Regions from separate parts of the Homo sapiens genome. Here all the other regions are linked to region 6. Evidence: fine-mapped expression QTL. A gene starts in region 6. Each other region holds a variant in brackets. All regions are shown on one strand. Distances are between the middles of the regions. Region 1 overlaps DOC2B (double C2 domain beta). Region 2 overlaps VPS53 (VPS53 subunit of GARP complex). Region 3 overlaps VPS53 (VPS53 subunit of GARP complex). Region 4 overlaps VPS53 (VPS53 subunit of GARP complex). Region 5 overlaps VPS53 (VPS53 subunit of GARP complex). Region 6 holds the start of VPS53 (VPS53 subunit of GARP complex).

What was found.
Region 1: its variant is fine-mapped to the expression of VPS53 in fibroblasts (GTEx, PIP 0.90).
Region 2: its variant is fine-mapped to the expression of VPS53 in sun-exposed skin (GTEx, PIP 0.96). The same link has a PIP of 0.9 or more in spleen.
Region 3: its variant is fine-mapped to the expression of VPS53 in whole blood (TOPMed, PIP above 0.99).
Region 4: its variant is fine-mapped to the expression of VPS53 in whole blood (INTERVAL, PIP above 0.99).
Region 5: its variant is fine-mapped to the expression of VPS53 in Th17 cells (Schmiedel 2018, PIP 0.95).

Annotation. Positions count from the first base shown.
Region 1 is chr17:156,293-160,467 of GRCh38, reverse strand. DOC2B (double C2 domain beta) reads left to right here. Exons shown (of 9, transcript NM_003585.5): 6 at 4,091-4,175. Among named protein-coding and RNA genes, the nearest start is that of SCGB1C2, 21 kb to the right of the region's middle. The variant A/G (reference allele first, on the strand shown) is at 1,712.
Region 2 is chr17:504,780-508,949 of GRCh38, reverse strand. It overlaps VPS53 (VPS53 subunit of GARP complex), which reads left to right. Exons shown (of 22, transcript NM_001128159.3): 22 at 1-282. Among named protein-coding and RNA genes, the nearest start is that of VPS53-AS1, 16 kb to the left of the region's middle. The variant G/T (reference allele first, on the strand shown) is at 1,739.
Region 3 is chr17:522,835-526,834 of GRCh38, reverse strand. The region is part of intron 19 of VPS53 (VPS53 subunit of GARP complex); the gene reads left to right. VPS53-AS1 (VPS53 antisense RNA 1) reads right to left here. Exons shown (of 3, transcript XR_007065570.1): 1 at 3,406-4,000. Among named protein-coding and RNA genes, the nearest start is that of VPS53-AS1, 2.1 kb to the right of the region's middle. The variant C/T (reference allele first, on the strand shown) is at 2,065.
Region 4 is chr17:557,645-561,644 of GRCh38, reverse strand. VPS53 (VPS53 subunit of GARP complex) reads left to right here. Exons shown (of 22, transcript NM_001128159.3): 15 at 1,072-1,219. Among named protein-coding and RNA genes, the nearest start is that of VPS53-AS1, 37 kb to the right of the region's middle. RefSeq lists a silencer at 380-429 and an enhancer at 445-1,644. The variant G/A (reference allele first, on the strand shown) is at 1,842.
Region 5 is chr17:528,136-532,135 of GRCh38, reverse strand. The region is part of intron 19 of VPS53 (VPS53 subunit of GARP complex); the gene reads left to right. The region is part of intron 1 of VPS53-AS1 (VPS53 antisense RNA 1); the gene reads right to left. Among named protein-coding and RNA genes, the nearest start is that of VPS53-AS1, 7.4 kb to the right of the region's middle. The variant AG/G (reference allele first, on the strand shown) is at 1,992.
Region 6 is chr17:713,304-717,303 of GRCh38, reverse strand. It overlaps VPS53 (VPS53 subunit of GARP complex), which reads left to right and starts at 2,465. Exons shown (of 22, transcript NM_001128159.3): 1 at 2,465-2,681. The coding sequence starts at 2,595. RefSeq lists an enhancer at 1,924-1,993.

The DNA.
Region 1 (4,175 bases), 560 kb after region 6:
TTAGCCCAAGTCAAGCCCCGGGGGCGAGTCAGCCTGAGGCCACGGCTTCTTCCCAGAATCCCAGTTACTTTTGCAGAATTTGATCCAATTTTATTCCTTGTCACATTCTCTCCCCCTCAGACATTTGTGTGATGGATATAACCTTTCCTGTTTTATTGTTAGTCACTAACCACAGGTAACCCGGTTTTTCCACATGGTCTATGTCACTTAAGAAAGGCAACATCTTAGGAGGCCAAGGCAGGTGGGTCATGAGGTCAAGAGTTCGAGAGAGCCTGGCCAACATGGCGAAACCCCGTCTCTGCTAAAAATAAAAAAATTAGCCGGGTGTGGGGGTGCATGCCTGTAATCCCAGCTACTCAGGAGGCTGAGGCAGGAGAATCGCTTGAACCTGAGAGGCGGAGGTTGCAGTGAGCCGAGATTGCACCGTTGCACTCCAGCCTGGGTGACAAGAGCAAGAGCAAGACTCTGTCTCAAAAAAAAAAAAAAAAAGCAACACCAGCCCTGCCTTAGTGTTCCTGAGTTTTCATCACTGGCATAAACAAACAACCACGTGGGTATGTACGTGGGGTGTCAGCGTGTGTGTGTGTGTGCTCGTGTGTGAATTGTGTGTAAGAGCATATGTCAGTACGTGTCTGTGTGCGACAGTGTGTGTGTCCACATGTGTGGTGTGCGTTCGTGAAAGCATGTGCGTCCCTGTGCGTGGCCATGATCAGGGCGTTGCTGGATGCGCTACCGGCCCATTGGTGCCGTTCAGGGACTCACAGTGACCGCAGGAGTGCAGCTGGGGATGCACCCCTGACAGTACAGCCACATTCTGGTGGTACTTTTATTATTATTATTTTTTGAGACTGAGTCTTGCTCTGTCATCCAGGCTGGAGTTCAGTGGCAAAATCTCTGTTCACTGCAACCTCTACCTCCTGAGTTCAAACAATTCTCATGCCTCAGCCTCCCGAGTAGCTGGGACTACAGGCGTGTGCCGCCACGCCTGGTTAATTTTTGTATATTTGGTAGAGATGGGGTTTCACCATATTGTCCAGGTGTCTCAAACTCCTGACCTTGAATGATCCACCTGCCTCAGCCTCCCAAAGTGCTGGGATTACAGGTGTGCGCCACCACGCCTGGCTAATTTTGGTATTTTTAGTAGAGACGGGGGTTCGCCATGTTGGCCAGGCAAGTCTCAAACTCCTGACCTCCAGTGATCCTCCTGCCTCGGCCTCCCAAAGTGCTGGGATTACAGGCATGAGCCCCTGTGCCAGGCCTCTGGCGGTAGGTTTTAGAATTTACAGTCTGCGAACATTATCTGTTTTAAGTCAATACTGAGCAAGACCCAGTGGTCTTCATATGAAACAACCCGAAGTACAATGTCCCACCCCTGAAAAAAGAGCTAAAAATATGCCTGCTGGTTGGTTGTTTTTTTTTTTTTTTTATGAGATGGAGTCTATGTCGCCCAGGCTGGAGTGCAGTGGCGCAATGTCGGCTTACTTCAACCTCCGCCTCCCGGGTTCAAGTGATTCTTCTGCCTCAGCCTCCCAATAGCTGGGATTACAGGCATGCGCCACCACACCCGGCTAATTTTTGTATTTTTAGTAGAGATGGGGTTTCACCATGTTGGCCAGGCTGGTCCTGAGCTGCTGACCTCAGGTGATCTGCCCGCCTTGGCCTCCCAAAGTGCTGGGGTTACAGGCATGAGTCACTGTGCCTGGCCCCTGCT[A/G]GTTTATATTGTTTAATTTTCACACCACACACACTGACACAAGCAGCACAGGGCATCAAGGCCCTCACACACAAAGCTCTGCCTGAGCGGCAGATAGCGAGATCTCGCAGGCCTGGCCTGATCCACCAGGAATGGCTGCCTGAGCACTGTGTTGAAAAGGATTCTGAGGTGGCATTGGAGCCTAGGGCAAATGCTAGGATCGATTAGCCATGTCTGCTCTGGGCGTGGGAGGTGGCGAAGGTGGCTGGTGGGGCATGTATGTCTTCCCTGCTCAACATCCCTGCTCACCTCACAGGAGTCTCATCTCCAGAAAGGGTTAGATGTAGCCAGAGGGACTCACTTTGGTGTTAGGCAGGGCACGGTTGTGGGCAAAAGGAGGTGGCTGGGGCTGCTTGGGAGAGGAGCCTGGTAGAGTCCTAAGGGGATCCAGGGGGACACAGGGCTCAAGCTGGGCGTGTGTGGGTGGGCTCAAGCTGGGTTTGTCTGGGGGGGCTGAGGGCCTAGGAGAGAGGGTTTGGGGTGTGCAGCAGCCAGAAGGAAGAAGCCGGGTAGTCTCGGGAGGGCAAGGAATGGAGAAGCATCAGGCTGGCTGGGGATGGGGAGGCCTGGAGCTGAGATCTGCCTTGAGAGGCAGGCACTGGCAGCTGCTGAGGCAGGGAAGGCACTGGATGGGCTCCCTACTTGGCTCCCAGCTTCTCCAGGGTGAGGAATGTACCAGAACTCTGTCTTCGGGGTTCTCCTGAGGGAGCCACATCCAGCACCCTGAGAGGCTCCAGGTAGCACCTTCAGGGAACTGGGGCCACGGTGACCCTTTTCCATCCACCAGGCTCCATTGTCATGGGCAGACCTTTCTGCCTTTCTTTGAACCTCCAGGCTGGAGTTGCTTGTATGAGGTTGAACGCACAGGGGACCATCTGTCCCTCCATTCCTGCCTTCACTAGTACAAGCCTCCAGTGGGCCCTTAGTGCCAGGGCCTTGCCCAGCCCTGAGGTATTAAAGATGACGCAGGTATTATCTGGATGCGGTGGCTCATACCTGTAATCCCAGCACTTCAGGAGGCTGAGGTGGGTGGATCACTTGAGGTCAGGAATTCGAGACCAGCCTGGCAGACATGGCAAAACCCTGTCTCTACCAAAAAATAGAAAAATTAGACTGTAGTCCCAGCTACTCAGAAGGCTGAGGCAGGAGAATCGCTTAAACCCGGGAGGCAGAGGTTGTAGTGAGCCAAGATCATGCCACTGCACTCCAGCCTGGGTGACAAGAGTCAGACTCTGTCAAAATCAAAATTTACAGGTAGAGTTCCAACTTCAAGGAACTTAGAGGCTGGGGCAGAGCCCTGAGGAAGCAGGGGGCCACACCAGGCCATGACAGGATAAACCCGAGGCAGTGGGCGCGCAGAGGGGACGGCCAACCCACCCTGAGGGTCAGAAAAGCCCCCCAGGCCCAGAAGGACCAGGAATTTATCAACGGTGAACACTGAGGAGGTCAGAGGAGGGTGCTGGAGCTGTGGATTAAGGGTGCGCAAAGGTGTGGAGGTGGGACCCGGCTTCAAAGCCAAGGGAAAGTCCGGGCGGGCTGTGAGGAGGACCTGGTGGAAGACCGTCCGCGGAAGCCGAGCGCGCCAGGCCGGGGGCTGCAGACCCGTGAAGGGCCGCTTAGCGCTAATGTTAGGCTCTGTGTGCCTCGCAATCTGTGGCCACCATGCAGCTCTGTCCTTAGGGCAAAAGCAGCCATAGAGAAGCATCACGGAGCTGGCAAGGCTGCGTTCCAACAACACGGTGTTAATGGAAGCTGAAGTGTGAATTTCATGTCATTTTCATGTGTCACAAAATATTTTTCATTTCATTTTTCTTTCTGCCATTCCAAAAAGTAAGAACCAGCTGGGCACGGTGGCTCATGTCTGTAATCCCAGCACTTTGGGAGGCCAAGGTGGGAAGATCCCTTGAGCCCAGGAGTTTGAGATCAGCCTGGGCAAAATAGTGAGACCCCTGTCTCTATTTTTTTGAAAAAGAAATTGTTTAAGATAAGGGTAAGAGCCATGCTTAGCTCACATCCCACACAGAGCCAGGCGTCGGGCCTGATCTGGCCCCCGGGCTGCAGTTGCCAACCCCTGGGCTGGCCCTTGCTGGGCTGTGAAGGCCACCGTAGGCCACATGCAGCCAAGAACAGGGAGGGTGTGGGTCAGATCCAGCCCTGGAAGAGCCCTTGGGAGGGAAGAGATGACAGAAGGGCTGTGAGTTCACAGTGAGGCCACTCACCAGGGACCGTGACCAGGCCCGGCTGCAGCAGCCGGATGGGCGGGCTCAGGAAGAGGAGGCCAAGGACGGCCAAGAGAGGGGTGGGAGCAGGTGAGGACTGAGTGACCGTCCCGTCCAACAGGTGGACAAGACTGAAGACAAGTCCCTGGAGGAGCGGGGCCGCATCCTCATCTCCCTCAAGTACAGCTCACAGAAGCAAGGCCTGC
Region 2 (4,170 bases), 210 kb after region 6:
GATAAAAGTATTTTATGAATACATTTTATGAGTTCAAATATTTTTCAGAAGAAATCAGTAAAAGCATTGAAAACTATTCCAGCAAATAGGAAGCACTTTAAACCAAGGTTATGGATGAAAATGTGTGTGTATCAACCCCAGTTTACTTCTGGGTTGCACAGAATAGAGAAATCTTGATTTAATCCAGCTAAGAATTTTCAAATAGTATCCATTTTGTTTTGTTTTAAACAGCTCTTCTTGCAATGGTAGAGGCTCTTCAATTAAACAGAGATGGTAACAGGCTCCTTGTCTCCTGAAGTCTTCATGGCCGTGAACAGCCCTTGGAGAAAGAGGTTAACAGAAGCAAGGGCCTCCGACATCTTACATTTGCCCCCAGAAGACATTTGAGGATGCGCGTTGCGTTATTACCATTTTTAATGTTTAGTTTTTAGAACTAAAACTAAATGCATTTTAAAAGTGAAGTTAGAATCAAACCTTTGTAGAGGTTCTCACTCCACCAAAACATCACTGAAGATTTCCAGGTTTCCCCAGGTGTCTGTTTGGAAGCTGCTGCCCTCATTGACGCACGTTGCTCATTGTTTTTCTGACCTTAGAGGGGAGGTCAGGCTTGGCACTGTCACCTAGTACAGGAAAGGGCACCGTTTGACTTGAGGTAGCCACCCATTCAACAATAGCACCTAAACTCTCTCCCAAATTCTGTGCAAATACAGGTTGAGCATCCCTAATCTGAGATGCTTGGGCCCAGGAGTGTTTTGGAGTTCAGCTTTTTTTTGATTTTGGAATATGTGTATTATGTACATGCCACTTCAGCATCCCTAATTGGAAAATCCCAAATCCAAATCGCTTCAGTGAGCACTTCCTTTGGGTGTCATGTCAGCACTCAAAATATTTTGGATTTTGGAGCATTTTGTATTTCGGATGCTCGACCCATAAGGCTGTGGGGCACAACTGAGACGAGGCCTTGTGGCCTTTGGAAAGAACATCTGAGAACCCTCTGAGTAACCCCTGGTGCAAGGGAGACAGTACTAAGAACAAAGCAGTGTCACTGGGATGGAGAAGGGGCTTGGTCAGAGGGAGGTGGGCGATCAGAAGAACCCAATCCTTCCAAAAGCCCCAAATCTTGTGCTTGAGACCTCGCATGACTGTGTAGGCAATGCTTCCCGACCTTTTCAGGACTTGAAACAGAAGTGACGACATGAGTAACTCCTCTTCCCTCAACAGAAGAGGCTGCTGGGGCCGGAAGTGATGGGCCTGGGGACACCTCCCTCCCTCCACAGCCCCAAGGCTAAAGGGATCAGTATCTGGCCATTTGCTGGATACCTTTGCGGTGGCCCCAGCATTCCAGTTGGGAAACTCAGAATTGGGGCATGAAGGTTGGAATTAGAGCATCGGGGTTGGGTGGTGTGTTTGTTTCCGTGTTGGGAACTTTGTCAAAGTCCCTCCATTTGTAGATGGGATGCTGAGATCTCAAGAGGTTTAATCACTGGCTTACTCCCCGCCATAGAAGAGGAGCGGCAAAAGCTAAGCCACTTGTGTACATGCCACTCTCAATATCCTGCTCTCAACTCACCACACCACTTTCCCTAGCTGTCCAGTCCTGGGGTCTGTCCTTTGCCCCACCCAGGTCTTCAGAGACTGTCCCCTTTCACCCTCTGCTTGCAGAAGTGAACAGGGGTCCCCCTGCTTTTCCTGATGCCACTCCCCCCCACAGCCTGTCGGTTTTGTTAGTGCGTCAAGG[G/T]AGTCCACTGCCCCCATCCCCACATGCATTCCTGCCGAGCAAGTCAGCTTCCATCTCAAGCACTGTCCTGACCCCGCTCTTGAGGGTCACCGGTGCTCTTCTAGAAAGTCAGCTTCCATCTCAACCACTGTCCTGACCCCGCTCTTGAGGGTCACCGGTGCTCTTCTAGAAAGTCAGCTTCCATCTCAACCACTGTCCTGACCCTGCTCTCGAAGGTCACCAATGCTCTTCTACAAAGTCAGCTTCCATCTCAACCACTGTCCTGACCCCGCTCTCAAAGGTCACCGGTGCTCTTCTAGAAAGTCAGCTTCCATCTCAACCGCTGTCCTGACCCTGCTTTCGAAGGTCACCAATGCTCTTCTAGAAAGTCAGCTTCCATCTCAACCACCGTCCTGACCCTGCTCTCGAAGGTCACCAATGCTCTTCTAGAAAGTCAGCTTCCATCTCAACCGCTGTCCTGACCCTGCTCTCGAAGGTCACCAATGCTCTTCTAGAAAGTCAGCTTCCATCTCAACCGCTGTCCTGACCCTGATCTCGAAGGTCACCAATGCTCTTCTACAAAGTCAGCTTCCATCTCAACCACTGTCCTGACCCCGCTCTTGAGGGTCACCGGTGCTCTTCTAGAAAGTCAGCTTCCATCTCAACCGCTGTCCTGACCCTGATCTTGAAGGTCACCAATGCTCTTCTACAAAGTCAGCTTCCATCTCAACCACTGTCCTGACCCCGCTCTTGAGGGTCACCGGTGCTCTTCTAGAAAGTCAGCTTCCATCTCAACCACTGTCCTGACCCCGCTCTTGAGGGTCACCGGTGCTCTTCTAGAAAGTCAGCTTCCATCTCAACCACTGTCCTGACCCTGCTCTCGAAGGTCACCAATGCTCTTCTACAAAGTCAGCTTCCATCTCAACCACTGTCCTGACCCCGCTCTCAAAGGTCACCGGTGCTCTTCTAGAAAGTCAGCTTCCATCTCAACCGCTGTCCTGACCCTGCTCTCGAAGGTCACCAATGCTCTTCTAGAAAGTCAGCTTCCATCTCAACCACCGTCCTGACCCTGCTCTCGAAGGTCACCAATGCTCTTCTAGAAAGTCAGCTTCCATCTCAACCGCTGTCCTGACCCTGCTCTCGAAGGTCACCAATGCTCTTCTAGAAAGTCAGCTTCCATCTCAACCGCTGTCCTGACCCTGATCTCGAAGGTCACCAATGCTCTTCTACAAAGTCAGCTTCCATCTCAACCACTGTCCTGACCCCGCTCTTGAGGGTCACCGGTGCTCTTCTAGAAAGTCAGCTTCCATCTCAACCGCTGTCCTGACCCTGATCTTGAAGGTCACCAATGCTCTTCTACAAAGTCAGCTTCCATCTCAACCACTGTCCTGACCCCGCTCTTGAGGGTCACCGGTGCTCTTCTAGAAAGTCAGCTTCCATCTCAACCGCTGTCCTGACCCTGCTCTCGAAGGTCACCAATGCTCTTCTAGAAAGTCAGCTTCCATCTCAACCGCTGTCCTGACCCTGATCTCGAAGGTCACCAATGCTCTTCTACAAAGTCAGCTTCCATCTCAACCACTGTCCTGACCCCGCTCTCGAGGGTCACCGGTGCTCTTCTAGAAAGTCAGCTTCCATCTCAACCGCTGTCCTGACCCTGCTCTCGAAGGTCACCAATGCTCTTCTAGAAAGTCAGCTTCTATCTCAACCGCTGTCCTGACCCTGATCTCGAAGGTCACCAATGCTCTTCTACAAAGTCAGCTTCCATCTCAACCACTGTCCTGACCCCGCTCTCGAGGGTCACCGGTGCTCTTCTAGAAAGTCAGCTTCCATCTCAACCGCTGTCCTGACCCTGATCTCGAAGGTCACCAATGCTCTTCTACAAAGTCAGCTTCCATCTCAACCGCTGTCCTGACCTTGCTCTCGAGGGTCACCGGTGCTCTTCTAGAAAGTCAGCTTCCATCTCAACCACTGCCCTGACCCTGATCTCGAAGGTCATCAATGCTCTTCTACAAAGTCAGCTTCCATCTCAACCGCTGTCCTGACCCTGATCTCGAAGGTCACCGGTGCTCTTCTAGAAAGTCAGCTTCCATCTCAACCACTGTCCTGACCCTGCTCTCGAGGGTCACCGGTGCTCTTCTAGAAAGTCAGCTTCCATCTCAACCGCTGTCCTGACCCTGCTCTCGAAGGTCACCAATGCTCTTCTACAAAGTCAGCTTCCATCTCAACCACTGTCCTGACCCTGCTCTCCAAGGTCACCGATGCCCTTCTAGAAAGTCAGCTTCCATCTCAACCACTGTCCTGACCCTGCTCTCAAAGGTCACCGATGCCCTTCTAGCCTGACTCACATCTGTCTTGACCCTTCTCTGGAAGGTCACCGATGCCCTTCTAGCCTGACTCACATCTGTCTTGACCCTTCTCTGGAAGGTCACCGATGCCCTTCTAGCCTGACTCAC
Region 3 (4,000 bases), 190 kb after region 6:
TCCCCAAGAATTGTAGGAGGCTCCTCGGGAAGTAAAGGGCCCCTCTCAAAGATTTCCATTGCTGGGTGATCAGCCTTCACAGGCATGGCATACTGGCCACCCTTGCACCCCCACATCCCATCAACAACATTAGCCAGCCCACACTGCCCCAGAAATTATCGCTGAGGCAGAAATGAATGTGGCAATAGCCACCCCTTGCCCAATGTCTCATGCCTAAGAAGATGAATTATCAACTATTTCAAAGTTGAAAACTAGCAGATTTTCATGATAAATGGGACCTTTCTGTCTTGTCTTTGCACAGACAGCCGCCAAATCTGTCAGGCTCATTCCCGCCTTTTCTGACTGCCTTGCTTTATGTATAAAACCTGAGACCAGGGTTTTCACCTCTCAGTGTCTGGTAAAGACAGAATTTTATGGTGACTGGCCAGGGAATGAAAGTGTCATATCTCCCTGTATATGAGGGACACTAGAGAATTATGCCTGGTGCATTCAAACCCTTCCTGTCATTTAAGACTGTACAATTATTTATGCATATAATGTATCTCTGGGAAGTAGAAAAGTAGGAAATATCTCCATATGCTTTAAAATATAATGACTGATTTTTTTTTTCCTACCAACAAATGAATGCTAAGACATGGCTTTGATTTTGACAAGGCTCTCAAAATTTGCTACATGGAAGACAGAGTTGAGTCCTGAATGGTAGTCTTTAAACAAAAATTCCAGTTAATTAATGTACAGAAAATAATGTAAAAAACAGTAACTAACTACTCAGCTCAGCAAAATATGTAACATGTTTCCACATTTACTTTACATCTTTTTTTTTTTTTTTTTTTTTTTTGAGAAAATGTCTCACCGTGTTGCCCAGTCTGGAGTACAATGGCGCGATCTCGGCTCACTGCAACCTTCACCTCCCGAGTTCAAGCAATTCTCCTGCCTCAGCCTCCCGAGTAGCTGGGATTACAGGTGTGCACCACCATATCTGGCTAATTTTTGTATTTTAGTAGAGATGGGGTCTCACCATGTTGGCCAGGCTGGTCTCAAATTCCTGACCTTAAGTGATCCTCCCACCTCAGCCTCCCAAAGTTCTGGGATTGCAGGCATGAGACACCGCGCCTGGCCCATTTTTTTTTTCTTTTCTTAAGAGACAGGGTCCCACTCTGTCTCCCAGGCTGGGGTGCAATGGTGCCATCATAGCTCACTGCAACCTGGAATTCCTGGGCTTAAGCCATCTTCCCACCTCAGCCTCCTAAGTAGCTGAGACTACAAGTGTGTGCCACTGTGCCTGTCTAATCTTATTATTTTTGTTTTTGTAGAGACAAGGTCTCACTGTGTTGCCCAGGGTAATCTTGAATTCGTAGCCTCAAGTGATCCTTCTGCCTCAGCCTCCCAAAATGCTGGGATTACAGGCATGAGCTGCCACACCCTGCCTGCTTTAGATCATTTTTATGTAAAGTAAATCATTACAGTTATTGCTGAAGACCGCCCCCATGAACCCCACCCTGCCCATCTCTTCCTCCATGCCCCAAAGTAAACACTGTCCTGATTTTGATTTTATTCTCATATGTGTTTTGATATATGTGTATATATTCACAAATGATATATGATTTTGTTTTGCATATTTTAAAACTATATAAATGGCATTAGACATATCATTTCCCCACTTGCTTTTTTTTGCCCAACTTACTATTTTCTGAGATTTATGCATGTTAATGCATGCTGTGTGCACCCATTCATTTTCACCTCAGCAGCATATTCCATTGCACGAATGTGCTGTCATTTGTTTATTCATTCCACTGTCAATGGACGTGTAGGTTGTTTCCAAACTTTTGCTTTTATAAATAGCGGATGCAGGGAACGTTTTTACATGGGCAAGAATTCCTCTAATGGATATAAGTATTAATGCTGTGTTATGGGTGATACACATCTCCAGCTAAGGAAATGTTGCTAAATTTCCCCCAACGTGCTTGAACTAACTTCTACTGTCACCACTAGTCTGAATTTCAGTGTGGCCGTGCCCACACTAGATTATCAACCTGTTTACTTCTGACTCTGATGGGTGTATTA[C/T]GGTGTACATTTGTGAATTTCAGTGCCATGGCCGTGCCCACACTTGATTATCAAATAATCTGTTTACTTCTGACTCTGATGGATGTATTATGGTGTACATCTGTGGTTTTAATTTGCATTTCCCAGTTACTAACCAGGTTGCGTGTCATTTCATATGCCTTTCGGGCATTTGAGTTTCCTCTTTTGTGAATCCGGTGTTAGTATTGTTTGCCTGTTGTTGTGTCGCTGTTGGGATAGTTTGTGCTTTTCCTGTTGATGTGTAGGAATCTTCATGTTCGGAACCCCGTTCCCTTGTCAACGTTGCACGTATCTTCTCCTGATTTATGTCTTGTCTTTTACTTTGTTTGTTTCTTCTGATATAGATGCCTTTCATTTTAGGGTAGGTGGTTCATTCTTTCTGATGTTTGACATTCTTCTCCACCCATAAGCAATGAAAATAATCTCTGTATTTTCTTCTTCTTCTTCTTTTTTATTTTTTATTTTTTATGTATTTATTTTTTTGAGACAGTGTCTTGTTCTGTCACCCAGGCTGTAGCGCAAACCTCCCAGGTTCAAGCAATTCTCCTGCCTCAGCCTCCCGAGTAGCTGGGATTACAGGCATGCGCCACCACACCCGGCTAATTTTTGTATTTTTAGTAGAGATGGGGTTTCTCCATGTTGGCCAGGCTGGTCTCGAACTCCTGACCTCAGATGATCCACCCGCCTCGGCCTCCCAAAATGCTGGGATTACAGGCATGAGCCACTGCGCCCTGTATTTTCTTCTTAAAGTTTTTCTTTTTTATATCTAAGAATTTAATCCACCTAGAATGCTTTAGAGGCTTGTTCTGGGTTCCTCCGAGGAAAAGCAGCAGTCATTTCCACTGGAATTCTGGAAAGTGCGCTAACGCCAGGCTCTTCACGTGGGCCTTGAGCAATCAGTGCCATTCCCCCTCCTGGAGGTTTGCATACCCTTTTCTCTGAGCCCTTGGCCTTTTCAACAAAGCAGACACTAGGATAGTAAGAATTTCTATCTCTAGAAATCCAGAAAGGTCCAAAATGCCCTGCACTTTGCTGGCTACAGTTGAATGACCTGCGTGGTGCAGGCCTTTGACTAGCTGCATGAAATTGCTCTGACCTTAGTGTAATTCCTTACCACACCTAAATTATTCCACATAAAACACTGACGTCTTCCCCATGTTTCTACCATTGTTAAAATTACAATTGCCATAACCCTTAAGTTCATAGTATCTGTCGTTACTTAGTTTCTCTTTAATCATTAATTCTTCTGTCCAAAGCAAAGTAAATAGGAAATTGGAGGATGCAAAGTGTCGCAGGGCCTGAAGGGTCCCATTTCTCACCTACCTGATAGGATTACAGAAGGCTTTCCCAAAGAAGCAGGCAGTGGCAGAGAGTACAGGCCTTGCCCTGAATATAAGTTTGGCCGTTATCACCGGAGTTGAGTGGTGGCATTGGGAGCTGTCACCCCACTGCTGCCGTTGTCTGCTTGGTGACCATGTGGTTCCATTCTCCTAAGCCATCTCAACAGGCCAGAGTACACCCTTCTGTCTTCAGCCATTTCTCTGCTCCCTGGTTGCCAAGAGCAGCGGCGGCAGCAGAGCAGGGCAGTCAGCAGGAGTCAGTGTGAGCTCGTCACCAAAACCACCCAGGGACATTTACCTGGGCAACCGGAAATGGAATTCCAGCTTCCCTTCCACCTTTTGTCTAACCCCGTTACCTGGGCAACCGGAAATGGAATTCCAGCTTCCAGTCCACCTTTTCTCTAACCCCGTTACCTGGCAACCGGAAATGAATTCCAGCTTCCCGTCCAACTTTTGTCTAACCCCGTCCGTTGCATGAGATGAGTTTGGTGAGCTGTTAATCCTCTGGAACTTTTTCTCATCTGTAAAATGGGAACAATAAATAACATCCAGGGTAGGTAAGGCTTTACTCAGATTAA
Region 4 (4,000 bases), 160 kb after region 6:
AAATAAATAAATAAATAAATAAATTATGTATAATCCCACTACCCAAAGAGAACGTAACTTTTTGTATATATTTTTCCGTTCTTGATAGATACCTAATGTGTGTGATCTGTGTGCTTTTGTTTGTTTGTGTCACGGAATTGGGGCTATACTGCTTATAGCTTTATTCCCTGCAGCTACCGTTTAACTTCATCGTGGGAGCATTTTCCCACGTGTATTAGTCAGCATCTCAGCAGAAAAAAATGGCATACTCAGCTGGGATTATGTCAGTAGAGAGACTGTTCACAGAAGTGGGGGCAAGGTGAAAGGAGCCAACAGAGGATTCCAAAGCATCCAGATATGAGTGGGTAGTGGTTACTACCATAGAACTCACTCAGTAGCTGGGGCTGCCCCAAAACCTGTAGTCACAGGAGGATGTGTGATGGGTGTTGGCCTCTTGAGACACTTAGGGCCTTGGGCAGGAAGCATGTCTTAACATTCGCTTATGTCCTCCTCCACAAGCACACATGAGTCCCCTTGCAGACTTCTCTTAACATTCGCTTATATCCTCCTCCACCAGCACACACGAGTCCCAGTGCAGACTTTTCTTAACATTCACTTATGTCCTCCTCCACAAACACACATGAGTTCCAGTGCAGACTTCTCTTAACATGCGCTTATGTCCTCCTCCACCAGCACACATGAGTCCCAGTGCAGACTTTTCTTAACTGAAAGAAACAGGGTAGGTAACCATCTTTCGTGCTCCACACGGTCCTAAATGAGTTCTGCACATCAGGAGATTCCAAGCTAAAGAGAGGACAGCTCAGCAGCCTTCCCTTTGGATATTAGACCATCCTAGTTAATGTGACTAATGGCCTGCTGATGATTCAGATTAACTAAAATAGGAATCATCTCTTCCTATTTCTGACGGTGTCAAGGTAAGGTCAGTAGGAAAAGGACTCATTGTATGTGAATTGATTTGGGCCATGTCCAGCCTTTACTTCCCCCTTTTCTGTATCTTAAAATAATGTAGTTTCCAGTTCAGGAAGCAAATTAGAAATTCCATGCTGACTTGTTCCTGTTCCTTTTCTTCAGAACCACAACCAGCAGTGGAGGACTGACTATCAGCAGCCTCCTCAAGGAAAAGGAGGGCTCAGAAGTAGCCAAGTTCACTCTGGAGGAGCTCTGCCTCATCTGTAACATCCTGAGCACGGCAGAGTACTGTCTGGCCACCACCCAGCAGGTGAGCCATCCTGGCTGCCCACTCACCACCTCCTTTTCCTGAACCCTCTGGGCTGCGTCGCTCGGCGAGTAAGAATATACGTCCTAACATGGCCACAGACAACCTTGGGTCAGACCAGTTGGCCTGCCACAGAGGAAAGCTCAGTGTCCAGCCATAAGGCTGCCCAGGCAGCTGTCTTACAGAAAGGCCTTGTTAAAAGAAGACTGGGCAAGAAAGTATGACTGGTCACCTCCCTGGAGTTGTGTAAGCTCCTCAAAGGGCATGACCTGTTAAAAGTAGGTCAGTAGCACTCCAACCCATATGAGAAAAGCAGTAACAAGCTTGTCTGTGCTAGGACCCAGCCTTTGGTGATGATGAGTCACAGCCAGTTATTCCATGCTCAGAAGTGTTACTAAGTTAAGCAGAATCCTTTGGGCTTTTATGTGTCTTCTGAAATTTACATGGCATTTTCAATCTGCCTCAACAAATAGCCATTGTTTGGGATGCTGACGTTTAGGAACTGGGGGACAGGAAAGGGTGATGCCTCTGCTGGAGGCCCCCACATGGCCATAGTTCAGCAACTGATGGAGCAGAAGGAAGACCCAGAATAACCTTTGATTCAGCCTTAAACATGGAATTAGAA[G/A]TCCTTTTCACACTTGGTCTGGGATTCCCCTGAGGCCAAGAGAAAGAAAGTAATTTGGAAAGGTTCTGCTCTTCTACCCACTTTGTATTTATAATTTACAGATGCCTAGACCACAAGAAGACAGTCATAAATGATAGTTCAGACAGCCCAGCTTGGAGCTCCTGTGTGCCAGGGCAGCAATATAGCAGGTCAAATAGGAAGTGTGTCTACCAAGGCCCCTCAGTGGCACATAAGCCAGCCAGAGGCAGAGGCAGCAGCACACTCTGCCTGGGGACCTGGTCATGTTGAGTTGCGAAGGTCATGACCTTCCAGGGTTTGGCCTTGGAGCCACAGAGCAGTCCGTTTAGCCCCAGGCCACTCCCCAGGTAAGATGGCACTATCTGTAAGGACCTCCAAGGCAGGGGTTCCAGAGTTCTTTCATGAAGAAACACTGTTTAACTATTTTGGGTGTGCACAGAAAGAAATACGATACATGTAAATATGCTATTTTAAAGGTAAAATAACCGTAGTATTTAAAAAAATAAAGATCCCTTTTAATCCCATCATCCTCAAATAATCATATTAGCAATTTGGGGTATTTTTTCAATTGTTATTCATAGACATAGTTTTGAATGTTACAATCTTAATTCACTGTTATATCCTTTTATTGTTAGTGTCATACATAGCATTAGCATTTCTCCTGTCATTATAATGATAGTAATAATCATAACTATCATTACAGGGTCATTATTACTATCATTGTTTATGGCCACATAATATTTCTCTTTAAGGGACTATACCATAAATTATTTATTTATTTATTTATTTTGAGACAGAGTCTTGCTCTGTCTTCCAGGCTGGAGTGCAGTGGCCATGATCTTGGCTCATTGCAGCCTCCACCTCCCAGGTTCAAGCAATTCTTCTGCCTCAGCCTCCTGAGTAGCTGGGATTATAGATGCCCATCACCATCCCCGGCTAATTTTTGTATTTTTTTTTTTTTTTTAGTAGAGATGGGGTTTCACCATCTTGGCCAGGCTGATCTCCAACTCTTGACCTTGTGATCCACCTGCCTTGGCCTCCCAAAGTGCTGGGATTACAGGTGTGAGCCCCTGTGCCCGGCCTTGTACCATAACTTATTTAGCAAGCATCCCTGATCGTTGTTTATAGTGCTTCAAATTTTGCTTTTTTTTTGAAACAGAGTCTCTCTCTGTCACCCAGGCTGGAGTGCAGTGGCACGATCTCGGCTCACTGCAAGCTCCCCCTGCCGGGTTCTCGCCATTCTCCTGCCTCAGCCTCGCGAGTAGCTGGGACTACGGGTTCCCATCACCACGCCTGGCTAATTTTTTTTTATTTTTAGTAGAGGCCGGGTTTCACTGTGTTAGCCAGGATAGTCTCGATCTCCTGATCTTGTGATCTGCCCGTCTTGGCCTCCCAAAGTGCTGGGATTACAGACGTGAGCCACTGTGAGTAGCTGGGACTACAGGCACCCGCTACCACACACAGCTAATTTTTTGTATTTTTAGTAGAGACGGGGTTTCACTGTGTTAGCCAGGATGGTCTCAATCTCCTGACCTCGTGATCCACTCACCTTGGCCTTCCAAAGTGCTGGGATTATAGGCGTGAGCCACCATGCCCAGCCAAAATTTTGCTTTTATAGATAATCCTGGCAGGGTACAGTGGCTCACGCCTGTAATCCTAGCATATTGGGAAGCCAAGGTGGAAGGATCGCTTGAGGCCAATAGTCCAAGACCAGCCTGGGTAACATAGTGAGACCTGGTCTTTACAAAAAATTTAAAAGTTAGTTGAGTGTGGTGGTACATGCCTGTGGTCTCAGCTACTTGGGAAGCTGAGGTTGGAGGATCGCTTGAGCCTGGGAGGTCAAAGCTGCAGTGAGCTATGATCACACCACTGCACTCCAGCCTGGGTGACAGAGTGAGACCCTGTCTCTAAAAAAAAAAAAAAAAAAAAAGATAATCCTTACAAAGAATGTCTTTCTGAATATAGCATCTTAAATGTTTTGCATTAGTTTTCTAGAACAGACTCTTAGAAGTTCTAGAAATAAGTTGAAGACCATTTTGATGACTGATGATACAAGTGGCCAATTATTTTTTATTTAGTGAAAATTGTTTTTATTGATTACAAAAGTAATACATTCTTAGCACCTTTATTGTGATCTCTAA
Region 5 (4,000 bases), 190 kb after region 6:
CTCTACTAATAATACAAAAAATTAGCCGGGCGTGATGGTGGGCGCCTGTAATCCCAGCTACTCGGGAGGCTGAGGCAGAATTGCTTCAACCCAGGAGGTGGAGGTTGCAGTGAGCTGAGATCACACCACTGTACTCCAGCCTGGGCAACAAGAGCGAAACTCCATCTCAAAAAAAAAAAAAAAAAAAAAACAATTAGCCAGGCGTGGTGGTGCATGCCTGTAATCCCAGCTACTTGGGAGGCTGAGACAGGAGAATCACTTGCAGGTGGAGGTGGAGGTTGCAGTGAGCTCAGATCACGCCACTGCTCTCCAGCCTGGGCAACAGAGTGAGACTCCATCTCAAAAAAAAAAAAAAAAAAAAAGAATAAATCCCAGTGATGGGAGGCTGAGATGGGAGGATCACTAGAGGCCAGGAGTTCAAGACCAGCCTGGGCAACATAGTGCAACCCTATCTCTCAAAAAAAATAAAACATTAGCTAAAAAACGGTCCACACCTGTAGTCCCAGCTGCTCAGGAGGAGGCTGAAGTCGGAGGATTCTTTGAATCCAGGCTGAAGTGAGCTATGATCGTGCCGCTGCACTGAAGCCTGGGCAACAGAGTAAGACACCATCTGCCCCACAAAAAAAAAAAGAGTCTTTTAATGATTATAGTAAGCTCAGACCCAAAGCCAATATCTTCAGAAAAATATCAGTTCATCCAGTGCTTACATCCATTATTGTTATTATTTTTTAACAAACCCACAGCCAACATCCTATGTTTACTTCCGTTTTGAGGTGTGGATGAGAAAACCATCTGCTGGAACTGGAGTTTTACTTAATCAGACCCCAGGCCAGTTCAGGTGGGCAGTAGGGGAGTGTGGATCTTGACAGGCCCAGAATGGGGAGGGTGTGGGTGGGAACTACAGGGCAACGTGGCCCCTGAACGATTCTCACATGAGTTGAGGTTTGGCTGGGCCTGTACTTGCCCTGATGTCTGGGCCTTGAAACTCAAGCAGCCATGTAGCTGCAGGCGTGTTCACTCAGGCAGCAGAACCATCAGAATCAAGTTAACTCAGCAGTGTTCATAGACTGAAACAGACGCTGCCTCCAGTAGTGGAGCAGCTGCCATCCAAACTTGAACAAAAGCTATGGCATTGGAAGCTAAGATTTAGCCCAACCTCAGCTGTGTCTGCCTTGCCACAAGGGTGCCAGATCCTAAATTAGGTTTTGCTTTAATACTTATGCTGAAAATGGGATGGGAGACATTTTTCTGCTCTTTGTTCTCTGAGTACTATATAAAGTGAGTTCTTTATCTTTGGGCCCCAGAGTCCTCGAGCAATTGCAAGGGCACGTGGAACTGACCCACACCAATATTGATCATGCTTCTTGCTAGTTTATGATCTTCAGATCATCCTGTTTTGCAGGGTCACTAATTATTCTTATGACTGCGTTCACCTATGAAAGCTTTTCTTTCCCTTGAGATTAAGGATAAGAGGAGAATGTCCGCTGTCACCATTTCTATCCCACGTTGTTGTTGAAGTCCTGGCTAGGACAACAAGGCAAAAAATACAATATTTTTAAAAGAAACAAAATATATACAGATTAGAAAGGAGGAAACTAAGCTGTCATTTTTCATGGAAAATATGATTATGAGTAATAAATCTAAAAGGATCTACAGATAAACTGTTAGAATATAAATTTAGCAGGCCGGGTGCAGTGGCTTACACCCTTAATCCCAACACTTTGGGAGGCCGAGGCGGGCGGATCACAAGGTCAAGAGTTAAAGACCAGCCTGACCAACACAGTGAAACCCCCGTCTCTACTAAAAATACAAAAATTAGCTGGGCAAGGTGTGGTGCGCCTGTAATCCCAGCTGCTCGAGAGGCTGAGGCAGGAGAATTGCTTGAACCTGGGAGAACTGCTTGAACCTGGGAGGTTGCAGTGAGCTGAGATTGCGCCACTGCACTCCAGCCTGAGTGATAGAGACTCCGTCTCAAAAAAAAAAAAAAAAAA[AG/G]AATATAAATTTAGCAAGGTTGCTGGCTATAAGGAAAGTGTTTTAAAATATATTTCTATATACCAGCAGCAAACAATTTAAAAATGAACATTTTTGAGTGAAATACTTTTTTTTTTTGCTGTATTGCCCAGGCTGGAGTGAGTACAGTGGCACAATCATAGCTCACTGCAGTCTCAATTCGTGGGCTCAAGCCATCCTCCTGCCTCAACTTCTCAAGTATCTGGGACTACAGGAATGTACTACCATGCCTGGCTGGCTCTTTTTTTTTTTTTTTGGTAGATATAGGGTCTGCCTCCCTGTGTCTCCCAGGCTGGTCTCAAACTCCACCCTCCTCAGCCTCCCAAAGTGGTGCGATTACAGGCGTGAGCCATGGCTCCCAGGCCTAAATGAAATCATTTACAATAACATCAGGAAACATTAAATACCTAGGAGTAAATTAAAAATGTACAAGTCTTCTACACAGAAAACTGTACAATATTAAGACACAGAATCCATAAAGACCTTTAAAATGACAGGATAGCTCATGTTCATTGATAAGAAAGACTCAAAAAGAAATACATATGGAGTCTTTCTGAGCCTGCTCTGGCTGAGGAGGCTGCCCAATAAAAAATAAATAACAATTTAAAAAGCGGCAAATTATTCCAAAATTAATCTATAGATAGAATTCAATCCTAATTACTGTATCAATTTATCTATAGATACAGTAGAATCCCAGCAGGGGTGTGTGTGTGTGTGTGTGTGTGTGAGTGTGTGTGTGTGAATTGATATGCTGATTTTAAAAGTTAGATGAAAATACAGAAGACAACAGCCAAAATAATCTTAGAACAGAATTGGAGGAGTTAAAGCTCAGGATATCAAGACTTATTGCAGCAGTATTGTAATTAGAGCAGTGTGGCACTGGCCCCAGGGACAAAGAGGCCAACAGAACAGATCTGAGCTGAGGGATAGACCCACACATGTGTAGATACTTGATTTATGACCAAAGTGGCATCATTCAAAGAGAGTCTTTTCAGTAAATAGTGCTGGGTAATTGGATATCCATATCGGAAAAAAATCTTGACCTTTGCCACACACCATATATAAAAATCAATTCCAAAGAGGATTTGGTGAAATTAGAACACTCATACATTGCTGGTGGTAATGCAAAACGGTACAGCCATTTTGGAAAACAGTTTGGCATTTACATAGAGTTACCACAGGGCCCAGCAATTATACTCCTAGATATATACCCAAATGAATTGAAAAAGGCAGGGTGCATGGTTCACACCTGTAATCCCAGCACTTTGGGAGGCTGAGGCAGGCAGATCACCTGAGGTCAGGAGTTCGAGACCAGCCTGGCCAACATGGTGAAAACCCACTTCTACTAAAAATACAAAAATTAGCTGTACATGGTGGTGTGCACCTGTAACTCCAGCTACTCGGGAAGCTGAGGCAGGAGAATCACTTGAACCTGGGAGGCAGAGATTGCAGTGAGCCAAGATTGCGCCACTGTACCTTCAGGCTGGGTGACAGGGTGAGACTCTGTCTCAAAAAAAAAAAAAAAAAAAAGAATTGAAAAAAAAATGTGTTCACACAAAAGCTTGTACACAAATATTCATAGCAGCACCATTTATAATAGCCAGAAAGTAGAAACAACTCAAATGTCCATCAGCTGATGATAAACAAAATGTGGTCTATCCATACAAGGGAATATTACTCAGCCATTAAAAGGAATAAAGTACCCATTCATGCTACAACATGGAAGAGCCTTGAAACCATGTTAAGTGAAAGAAGCCAGACACAAAAAGCCACCTATTGTGTGACTCTGCTTCTGTGAAATGTCCAGAACAGGCAAATCCGTAAAACAGAAAGTGGATTAATGGTTGGCAAAGGCTGAGGGAGGGGGAGATGGGAATGGCTGCTAATGGGTAAGGGTTTCTTTCTGGGGTGATAATGTGTTCTGAAACCAGATAATGCTGACAGCTGTACAACCTTGTGAATAGACCTTAAAAACCACTGAATTGTACAC
Region 6 (4,000 bases):
CTGGGTGATAGAGCGAGACTCCGTCTCAAAAAAACAAAAACAAAAACAAAAACTATAGGGACAGAAATCAAGTCAGTGGTTGCCAGTGGATGGGGTGAGGCAAGAGGGAATTTGGGGGAATGAAATTGTCCTATAACTAGATTGTGGTAGTAGTTACATGGTTATATACATTTATTTATTTTGTTTTATTATTGTTTTCTTATTATTTGTTTGTTTGTTTTGAGATGGAGTCTTGCTCTGTCACCCAGGCTGGAGTGCAATGGTGCAATCTTGGCTCACTGCAACCTCCACCTCTCGGGTTCAAGTGATTCTGTGCACCACCACGGCCAGCTACGTTTTGTATTTTTAGTAGATAGAGACGGGTTTTACCATGTTGGCCAGGCTGGTCTCGAACCCCTGACCTCAAGTGATCTGGCAGCCTCGGCCTCCCCACGTGCTGGGATTATAGGCGTGAGTCACCATGCCCAGTCGTTTATACACATTTATCAAAACTCACTGCATCATAAATTGCAAGAGTAAATTTTACTGTATGTAAATATCTTAATTTTTTAAAGGAAAAAAAAAGTCCAAAATAAGTAGCTATAATTACCTTTTCCTTTTAGAAAAAGGCATTCATATTTTCTGAGCATGAGAGAACTACAGGCTCATTGTAGACATTTGGGAAAATGTACAAAGGATGTACATTCATCACGTGCAGAAAAGTAATATTTCCTTGCTGTGAGCTTTATTGGCACAGAATACACACAAAGCTGGGACCATGCTATGCATTTTTTAAATGAAATTATACATTTTGCTTTCTGAAATATATTGTGCATATTTTTCATGTCATTAATTTTCAAAATCATGATTTTATGAATCAATAATATTCTATGTTTACTTAAGAGACAGAGTCTCCCTTTGTGGCCCAGGCTGGAGTGCAGTGGCGCAAAGGAATCATTCCTCACTGCAGCCTCAAACTCCTGGGCTCAAGCGATCCTCAGTGGTGGGATGAGATCTAGACCCCTGATATTCAATCTCAGAAAGTCAATAATTCCCTGCCTCAGCCTCCTGAGTAGCTGGGGCTGCAGGCCTGTGCCACTGCACCAGGTTCAATGTATATTTTATTTTGTCTTTTTTTTCTTTTTTTAATGTATATTTTTTAGCATTCCTTTGTTGTTAGAAATTACATTGTTTATATAATTATTATTTGTCAATTAAAAATAAAAGAAAAAATCATACTGCTCCTATTTTTTACTTTGAGCAACTCTGATAACAACAACAAAAAAAAGTTCAGTGGGGCCAACGCGTTTCCCTCCTGGAGTTTCCCGGTTCACCTGGTGGAGCGGGTCCTCCTTGGGCTGCAATTCCCTCCTTCTTTTCAGTGTCTGCAGGAAAGGTGGTTTCACAGGGTGATCGGTGATCTGGCTTATTTGTTCCTTTGTGGGGGTAAGGGCTGGGCACCTCACTATTTCCTGTATTACCAGCTTGAATTTACATCGCGCTGTTAATGTTTAATCCTCTCCACATCGACGCGGGGTAGTAATTTGTTCCAAGTCACACAACTTATCAATGGTGGACTATTCAGGACTTAGATCCCGGATATTCAACCTCAGTAAACGTCTCCCCAGCTCCAGGGCGCTGCGTCATCTGGCTTTAAAAAAACGTTTCTGGCCGGGCGCAGTAGCTCACGCCTGTCATCCCAGCACTTTGGGAGGCCGAGGCGGGCGGATCACGAGGTCAAGAGTTCGAGACCAGCCTGGCCAACATGGTGAAACCTCGTCTCCACTAAAAATACAAAAATTAGCTGGGCGTGGTGGCGGGCGCCTGTAATCCCAGCTACTCGGGAGGCTGAGACAGGAGAATCGCTTGAACCCAGCAGGCGGGGTTGCAGTGAGCCGAGATCGCGCCGTTGCACTCCAGCCTGGGCAACAAGTAAGACTCCGTCTCAAAAAAAAAAAAAAAAAAAAAAAAGACGTTTCTCCCCATAAGGAGGCTGCAGTCACCTCGAAAAGCTTCTGCGCAGAGCCCGGCGCACGGGGAATTTCTATCGAGTGGGCACTGTCCCGTCCTACGAATGTCCTTGGCGACATCGCCACTCGCCAGCTGGGATCACGTCGCCCCCGTGGCCGGGGACACCCGCTGCCACTGACCGAGGGGGCCCCGGGAGCTGAGAGGTCGCCGCTGCGCTGCCCGCGGAGGCTGTGGGCTGCGGTTGGCGACGCCGCAGGGCTGACTTTCATCCGGGCGTCCTGCTGGAGGCCAGACCCTACCCCAACCTCGGGGTCCTCAGTGCGGGGCGCGCCTTGGGGAGGGAAGAGGCCCCGCCCATCCTAAGGACGCGCTGAGGCCACGCGGGGCCGCCGGGATACTGCGTTGCCCGGGAGACACCTGACGTGACAGGAACGCCGCCAGTCTCAGTCCGCCGTGATCCCACAGTTCCCCGGTCCCGGAAGTGCCCTGGCCTGCCGGAAGTGCCGGAGCGGCTGACAGAGCGGCTGACGGAGCCGGGCTCACCAGGTCGCTGCCGCGAGGGAGTTGCTGTGCTGGGGCCTGGGTGGCGGCTGGAGGCCTGAGTTGGGCTCGCGGCGGGGGTCGGCAGGGGGCCGGGTGGCGGAATGATGGAGGAGGAGGAACTGGAGTTCGTGGAGGAGCTGGAAGCCGTGCTGCAGCTCACGCCCGAGGTGCAGCTGGCCATCGAGCAGGTAAGCGTTCCGCCCCTCAGGAGGGGAAACGGGAGTGCGGGAGGGGAGACGGCAGCTCCGGGCGCTGGGGAGGCCGCGGCGGGTGGACGGAGGGCCGGGGGCTCGCGGCAGAAGGGAAAGTGGAGGTGGGGAGGTGGTGCGGGTGAGAAGCGGTTTCTGAATCAGAAGGAAAGGAAAGAGAACCCTTTCTAGGCTTTGATTGTCTTTGGCGAGGGCTGGGGGTTCTGGTGGTTTTGGGGAAAGGAATTGTGCGCTTAGAGAGGACGACGCTAGGAGAATGCAGGCCTTGGGTGCCATCCTCAGATTCTGGGGACTGTGGGGGCTTCATGCATTTACCAGACTCGTGCCAACGCCCCGGTTTTGCAAGCTGGCACCTCGTGAGTGGCTTGGAACTGGGGGAAGGGAATGACTTTAATTTCTGAAGCGGACGGCAGAGAAGAGAGAAAGTGTTGAAAAATGACATCGTTACCATTCTTAAAAGGTTGAGAATTCCTACCGTTGAATAGTTTGGGTGAGGTTGGAGAATACTCCCAAGGGGCCTCTTTTCCCTTCAGGAACTTTTTTTTTTTTTTTTTTTTGAGACGGATTCTCGCTCTGTCGCCCGGGCTGGAGTGCAACGGCACGATCTCGGCTCACTGCGACCTCCGCCTCCCGAGTTCAAGCGATTCTCCTGTCTCAGCCTCCTGAGTAGCTGTGATTACAGGCGCACGCCACCACACCCGGCTAATTTTTTTTTTTTTTTGGGGTAAAGACGGGGGTTTCACCGTTTTGGCCAGGATGGTCTCGAACTCCTGAGCTCAAGTAACCCGCCCGCCTTGGCCTCCCAAAGTGCTGGGATTACAGGCGTGAGCCACCACGCGCGGCCCTGCCTGCAGGAACTCTTGCCTTTGCAAGTTTATTGAGTTTTTAAGGCTAATGATATTAGAAATAGTGATTTTTTTCTTTTCTTTTTTTCTTTTTTTTTGTTTTCTGAGACGGAGTCTCGCTCTTTCGCCCAGGTTGGAGTGTAGGGGTGCCATCTCGGCTCACTGCAACCTCCGCTTCCAGGTTCAAGTGATTCTCCTGCCTCAGCCTCCTGAGTAGCTGGGACTACAGGCAACCGCTACCATGCCTAGCTAATTTTTGTATTTTTAGTAGAGACCGGGTTTCACCATGTTGGCCAGGCTGGTCTTGAACTCCTGACCTCAGGCTATCCGCCCGCCTCGGCCTCCCAAAGTGCTGGGATTACAGGTGTGAGCCACTGCACCCGGTCAGAAATAGTGATTTCTAATACTGCAGGGTATTGCTCCTGATAAACGGAGAAAATCTCCCTTAAAGGA